2 linked regions of the Homo sapiens genome follow. The protein of the gene in region 1 purifies or fractionates together with the protein of each later gene. This does not show direct contact. Each region holds a gene or a part of one and is shown in the gene's direction. Other genes may lie near its edges. The genes, in order: RAD52 and DAZAP1.

What was found.
Region 2: the proteins of RAD52 (region 1) and DAZAP1 purify together in Homo sapiens (affinity purification with mass spectrometry; one study listed by BioGRID and IntAct). This does not show direct contact.

Annotation. Positions count from the first base shown.
Region 1 is NC_000012.12:925,416-929,229, reverse strand, and holds part of RAD52 (DNA repair protein RAD52 homolog), read left to right. Parts: intron 1-1,966; coding exon 1,967-2,085; intron 2,086-2,283; coding exon of another isoform or gene 2,284-2,434; intron 2,435-3,704; coding exon 3,705-3,780; intron 3,781-3,814. UniProt on the Homo sapiens protein: Involved in double-stranded break repair. Plays a central role in genetic recombination and DNA repair by promoting the annealing of complementary single-stranded DNA and by stimulation of the RAD51 recombinase.
Region 2 is NC_000019.10:1,417,561-1,421,374, forward strand, and holds part of DAZAP1 (DAZ-associated protein 1), read left to right. Parts: intron 1-643; coding exon 644-810; intron 811-1,105; coding exon 1,106-1,171; intron 1,172-3,587; coding exon 3,588-3,698; intron 3,699-3,814. UniProt on the Homo sapiens protein: RNA-binding protein, which may be required during spermatogenesis.

The DNA of each region.
Region 1 (3,814 bases):
CTCATATTTCTATTCTATTTCCCCACTGGTTTTAATCCTAATACATATTTATGGTTGAAAGTTTGGCTAGGCGGGGTGGCTCATTCGTGTAACCCCAGCACTTTGGGAGGCCCAGGTGGAAGGACTGCTTGAGCCCAGGGATTTGAGACCAGCCTGGGCAACATAGCGAAAGCCCGTCTCTACTAAAAATACAAAAAATTAGCTGGGCATGGTGGTGTATGCTTGTAGTCCTAGCTACTCAAGAGGCTGAGGTGGGAGGATCACCTGAGCCCAGGAAGTCGAGGCTGTGGTGAGCTGTGATTGCGCCACTGAACTCCTGGGTGGAAAAAAAGAAAAGTTTTATCGGTAGCCTTACTGTGCTTCTCTGCCTTTGCCTGTGTATAAAAATAAAAATTTTTGGTAAATTTTCAGTGCACTTAAGGCTCTAAATATTAAAATATTTCTTTTGGATTTAGTTATATTATAGCTACTGTTAACACACAATTGACCAGACAATTGTGTTTATGGTGAAGAGAAAACATAAATACAGCAAAATTTTGATACTTAGAAAAATTAAAGATATGAAATCTTGCCACAAAAATAAAAAATTTAAAATATAAAATTTATGGAAAATGTATATCTTAATGAGATGGATGGTGCTGTTTTTTCTTTTCAGTTAGTTTATATATCCATATATCCATAACTGAATATTACTTACTTCTTTTTTTTTTTTGAGATGGAGTTTTGCTCTTGTTGCCCAGGCTGGAGGGCAATGGTTCAATCTCAGCTCACCGCAACCTCCACCTCCTGGGTTCAAGCGATTCTCCTGCCTCAGCCTCCCAAGTAGCTGGGATTACAGGCATGCGCCACCCCGCCCGCCTAATTTTTTGTGTGTGTTTTCAGTAGAGACGCGGTTTCTCCATGTTGGTCAGGCTGGTCTGGAACTCACAACCTCAGGTGATCCACCCGCCTTGGCCTCCAAAAGTGCTGGGATTACAGGCGTGAGCCACCGCACCCGGCCTACTTATTTCTTGAATGAACAATTCAGCATTAATTCTATTCTGACTTATTTTTCTAAATAGTACTAAAAAATCTTGTATCTATGAGTGAGTAGCTGAGAATGGAAAGAATTGTGTTATAGTGTCACTCATTTATTTGAGTGCTTTCTGAGTTATTTTTTAAAAATCACAGAGCGCTGTCATCAAACATTGTATTTAATTCTCAATCAGCGAATGATGTGCTCAGGTCCACCTTCTCTTTTGGTGAGAGGCAGGAGCTGGACGCCACCTGATTTACAAAGGGTTTGCTCTCCCGTCCTTACAGACCATTAGATCCAGTGTTCAAATCATCCCTTTGTTTCATATCCCAGAGGTTTTTTTTTTTCCAAGACGTAGTCTCACTCTATCACCCAGGCTGGAGTGCAGTGGTGCAATCTCGGCTCACTGCAACCTCTGCCTCCCAGGTTCAAGTGATTCTCCTGCCTCAGTCTCCTGAGTAGCTGGGATTACAGGTGCCCACCACCACACCCGGCTAATTTTTGTATTTTTAGTAGAGATAGGGTTTCACCATGTTGACCAGGCTGGTCTTGAACTCCTGACCTCAAGTGATCCACCTCCCTTGACCTCCCAAAGGGCTGGGATTACAGCGTGAGCCACCACGCCCGGCCCGGCCATCCCAGAGGTTTTTTTTACCTTAGGGTGATGCACACTGATAGGATTTGGGGTGAGTTTCTAATGTGCCCTTTGTGTGTTGGGAAGTTGGGAAGGGAGGATCGTCTTGACACCTTGACCGCAGGCACATGTCCAGGCAGCCCAGGTCTAGGAAGCAGCACTCGCGATGGATTCTCACCCAGCCTTCTGCCCGTGCCCCTGTAGCAAGGCCGCCAGGTGGGAGAGTCCGGCTTTGAACCCTGCTGCTTGAGGAACAGGGGAGTTGTGGCACGCCTGCCGCTCTCGTGTTTGAGTTCAAACTCCTTTTCTGCCCCCAGGATGGTTCATATCATGAAGATGTTGGTTATGGTGTTAGTGAGGGCCTCAAGTCCAAGGCTTTATCTTTGGAGAAGGCAAGGAAGGAGGCGGTGACAGACGGGCTGAAGCGAGCCCTCAGGTGAGCGCGGGGCTGGGAGTCTAACCTGCGTCATTTCAGCTCTTGCTTCAGAGCAGATTTCGATTTTTTTTGGAAGAGGTAACACATCCACATGGTTCAAAAATCCAAGCAGCGTGGAAGGTAATTCTCACCCCTGCCCTGGTTCCTGTCTGCCGTTTTCCCACTTTCGTTAGTATTTTTTCAATGTTTCTGTTTCAGGCTTCCCTTGCTGGGAGTAAGTGGTAGAATCCTGTACTCTCTCTTCTCCGTGCACTCAGTCATGTGTGCCGGAGGCCTTCCCACTCCTACTGCGAGTGCACAGACAGCACCCTCCTCTCCGTGCTCCTCAGCAGTCCTCCGCTACGCACAGGTAGCATAGTTAACGTAGTTACACAGTCACGCAGATGTCCGTGTTAGTCCATTTATGTTGCTATACAGGAATACCAGAGGCTGGGTAATTTATAAATAAAGGAGGTTTGATTGGCTTATGATTCTGTGGACTGTACTGGAAGCCTGGTGCCAGCATCCACTTCTGCTGAGGCCTCAGGAAGCTTCTAATCATGGCAGAAGGTGAAGAGGGAACGTGGAGAGAGAGGGAGCAAGAGAGAGAAGGAAGGAGTCCCAGGCTTATTTATTTATTTTATTGTTGTTTTTCATTTTTTGAGACAGGGTCTTGCTCTGTTGCACAGGCTGGGGTGCAGTGGTGCCGTCATCGCTCAGTGCAGCCTTGAACTCCTGGGCTGAAGTGATCTTCCCGCCTCAGCCTCCCGAGTAGCTGGGATCACAGGCACATAACACCACCCCCAGTTAATTAAAAAAAAATTTTTTTTTTTTTGGAGAGACAGGGTCTCCCTTTGTTGCCTAGGCTGGTCTCAAACTCCTGGGCTCAAGTCATCCTCCTGCCTTGTGCCTCCCAAAGTGCCGGGATCACAGGCATGAGCCATCATGCCCAGCCCCCACACTCAAAACCACCAGATCTCTCATGAGCTGAGTGAGAACTCACTCAACACCAAGGGGATGGCACTAAGCTGTTTATGAGGAATCCAGCCCCAGGATCCAGTACCTCCCACCAGGCCGCACCCCCCGGCATTGGAGGTCACGTTTCAACATGAAATTTGGAGGGGATAAACATCCAAACCATATCCGTGTCTTTGAGAATTGAAGTGAATTGAACCAGAAAAACCTATGAGTTCTGTGGGGGAGTCCGTAGATCCCAAGTTAAGAACTCTGGTCATGGGAGGTTGTGCCCTTGAGCCCCCGGTCCCCAAGTGTGTGTTGCCTACTCCTGCTGGGAAATTGGAGCAGCCTTTGGGGGGAAAAAAAAGAAAAACTCTCTGCAGTTTGTTCTCCATGTCAGGAGGTGGCTGGTGGGTTTTGTGAATGGCGCCGTAATCTTTTCATACTCATCTTCTCTGTGAGGGCAGGGACTTGTGTCTTGTCCTCACTGCAGTATTCTCAGAAACTAACACAGTGCAGGAACATGCTAGATGCTTACCAGACATCAATGGGGAATGCATGTTAGGGTCCACTTCCTCTGCTGCTCCTGAGAAGCAACCTGTACAAAAGTTGTAATTCTATTCTCTGATATTCATGTGTAACAATTCTTAACCCTGTTTCACCTTTTTTTCTCTTGCCCTTAGGAGTTTTGGGAATGCACTTGGAAACTGTATTCTGGACAAAGACTACCTGAGATCACTAAATAAGCTTCCACGCCAGGTATATCAGACATGGATGAGTGGAGTGAAGATAA
Region 2 (3,814 bases), on another chromosome or scaffold:
AGGTGGGTACTGCAGATGGGCTCTAGGACCTCGGCCTTCAAGTTGTGTCTGCCCGCCTCTTGCTACTGTCTTGGATATTTTAAAGTCCTTTTGACGTTGTTCTGATTTCTGGGCAGGGGACAGAGTAAGTGTGTATTTGCTCTGAGACTGTTAATTTGGTATTTCCATCCCAAGTTACAGGGAAGACCTCAGGCTGCAGGTTCCTAGCTCCGGGCTGAGGTGGCTTGTGGAGGCAGACAGCTGTTGTCTGGAAGTGCAGAGGGCTGGGGGCTGGCCAGGCTGTTACTGAGTTCAGAATAGGAGGAAAGAGTGTGTAGCAAAGTCGGCGCTCCTTGGCCACTGCCAGCATTCAGAGTTGTCTTGTTTGCCTTGCCTTAAACGTTGCCTTCCTGGACGCCTACAAAGTCAGGTTGTAACCGCTGGCCACTGCTGTGCTCACTGGCAGCCCCTGATTTACGTGAGGACCTCAAGTGTGTGTTGGGCAGAATTCCCCAGCGCTTCCCGTACACCCCCCACCCCCAGTGCAGCATCGCTCGGTGCGTGGCTGGTGGACTGGAGGAGTGTGCGTGCCGGCAGCACTGCCAGGCACGTGCCTAATGCTCTGGCCCTGTGTGTTTGTGTTTTCTTCCCGATTTCTGAGCAGAGACTCTGCGCAGCTACTTTTCCCAATATGGAGAAGTCGTAGATTGTGTTATCATGAAAGATAAAACCACCAACCAGTCTCGAGGCTTTGGGTTTGTCAAATTTAAAGACCCAAACTGTGTGGGGACGGTGCTGGCCAGCAGACCGCACACGCTAGATGGCCGAAACGTAAGTGCCCTTCCGGGAGCTCACACCCGCTCTCTGTCTCCCCTGTCCTTCCTCTGCTTCATTTTTTCCTGGACTCTGACCGATGTTTGCGTTAGAGTATGTTTGAACGTGGGGTCGATTGGGAAGGATTAAGCCTTGGTGCTGAGGCTGGATATTGCAGGAGGATACAGGGTGAATGGAGCCGGCGGGGCGGGGCGGGCCGGGCTGCTGTGCCGTGGCTGCTGTTGTGCTGACACCCTCTTTCCTAGAGAAACAGCCTCTTATTCACAACCAGCTGATTTGAAATTTCCTGCAGATCGACCCCAAGCCATGCACACCCCGGGGGATGCAGCCGGAGAGAACACGGCCGAAGGAAGGATGGGTAAGGGGCTGGGCCGGGCGGCCTCCTTGTGTGTTCTCCACTCCACGTGGAAAGGAAATGCGTGCCTTCAATCTGCTGTTGTCGCTCGTTAAGATTGAGGGCGACGCAGGTCTTCTGGGTTGGCACTCGAGCAGCTGAGGATCACCCAGATTTATCAGTGCCGTGAGTGTTTTACAGCCAAGAAAATTCTTACTAATCTATCTTAGGGAAAAAAAAAATGACAGCTCATGCCACTGATTATCAGGAGCCAGTCAGCTTCCCTCTGTGCCCTGTGTGCCCTCTGTGCCGGGCCTGCCCCCTCCCACTGCCTGGCCCTCCTCAGAGGTGGGCCATCCTTCCACTGCCGGGGCTGGGCCGGGCTGTGTCAGCTCGTGCTGGCCACTTTACTGCTCCACTTGAGATCCCCTGACGTGGCAACTTGGGTTCTCTGACCTGCGCCCTGGTGCTTGCCTGGCCGACAGGGCACTGTCCTGGCATGGGGTCTCCTTGGCATTTGGGTCTCACCACCACCCACACCTCACCTTCCTCCAGCCCTGCAGTTCTCACACCGGCACCAGGAGCCTGGTGGGGCGGTGCAGATGGGAAAGCTCTTAGCCCCATAGAACGTGCTGGACAGTGCAGACCTGGAGGCCTGCTGAGGCACCGGGTGCCAGCCTCTCCACAGTGTGGGCAGCAGGGTGGGGTCTATATGTATTTACATCCATCTCTGTCCACATACACCATTCCTAAGGACCGGAGGGTGCGTCTCCTAAAATGACGGCCACCCCTCGCATGCACCCACCGTCAGCACGCTGGAAAGCGGCTGCAGGGAATCCCGTGTCATCTGTGTCCAGGCCGTGTTCCCAGCTCCAGAATTGTTTCACAAGTGTCTCTCATAGCTGGTTTTTTTCAGACTGGAATCCAAGGTTCATATTCCATCTGGTTATTAATGTCTCTCTAGCTTTTCTTAAGATATAATGGGCACGTAGTAAACTGCACCACTTGATGATTCTGACCCATACAAACACTCATGAAACCATCCCGACCGTCACGGCAGCGAGCACTCACCCCACGCACACACTCATGAAACCATCCCAACCGTCACGGCAGCGAGCACTCACCCCACGCACACACTCGTGAAACCATCCCGACCGTCACGGCAGCGAGCACTCACCCCACGCACACACTCATGAAACCATCCCGATCGTCAACGGCAGCGAGCACTCACCCCACGCGCACACTCATGAAACCATCCCTACAGTCACGGCGGCGAGCACTCACCCCACGCGCACACTCATGAAACCATCCCTACAGTCACGGCGGCGAGCACTCACCCCACGCGCACACTCATGAAACCATCCCTACAGTCACGGCAGCGAGCACTCACCCCACGCGCACACTCATGAAACCATCCCGAACGTCACGGCGGCGAGCACTCACCCCACGCGCACACTCATGAAACCACCCCGAACGTCACGGCGGCGAGCACTCACCCCACGCGCACACTCATGAAACCACCCCGAACGTCACGGCGGCGAGCACTCACCCCACGCGCACACTCATGAAACCACCCCGAACGTCACGGCGGCGAGCACTCACCCCACGCGCACACTCATGAAACCACCCCGAACGTCACGGCGGCGAGCACTCACCCCACGCGCACACTCATGAAACCATCCCGACCGTCACGGCGGCGAGCACTCACCCTCAAAGGTTTATAGTCTTTTATTCAAAGCAGTTGGAACAACTTAAAATGTGATAGCCTTGGATAGGGAAAAAAAAAAAAAAGGATGGTTGGTGGGTGGGGGCAGGAGGAGAGCAGCCCCAGCCCTAAGGGCAGCCCGGGAGCTGGACCAGAGACTCCTGGCTCTGGCCACCCAGTGAGCGCCGAGGCCCCGGGAAGTGGTGCCCAGGAGCAGGCGCCCTTGCCAGTGGGAGGCCGGCAGAAGGGGCTGTGTGGTTTGGGCCAGTGTTTCACACAGCTCTTGAGCTGCTGGAGGTTTCCGTAGCCATCATTGTCACCTGCTGGAGATGTACAGCCTGAAATCCAGCTTCCTCTCTGCTCATTTCGTCGTCGCTGCTGCCTTTCCCCTGCCGTCCTAAAGTCCCTGCCTTCACACTGGAGCACTTTTCCACGTGGCAGTGGTTGTAATTCGGAATAGCTGAGGCAAGGCACGCACTGTGTCGTGGGTCCGTTTAGCTGAAATGTAGCTCTGCAGAAATGCTCAATCCCTGTCTCCTTGGGTCTCTCTAGAAAAGTGAGAAAGTGTCTCAGCAGAGCCCAGTGTCTTTGGACTTAGCGGGCTTGTGGAGTGTTCTGCTCTGGCTTTCAGCTGACTCTTTAAACCAGCGCGGATTGGCCTTTATGTCCTCCGCAGCTCGCGGGAGGGTTTGGAGGGTTCCCGTGTGAACTAACTATCCTTCCCTTCTTCAACAGCAGAAAGGACCCAGGAGCGATAACAGTAAATCAAATAAGATATTTGTCGGTGGAATTCCTCACAATTGTGGTGAGACAGAGCTCAGGGAATACTTCAAGAAGTTCGGAGTGGTGAGTTTCTCCCCACCCCGGCAGCACTGTGGGGACAGAGCCGCTTCTGCTCAGGCCTGGGCCTTCTTGGGGCTGGAGTGGCCGAGCCACAGGTGCACGGGCCTTTCAGGCTGGGA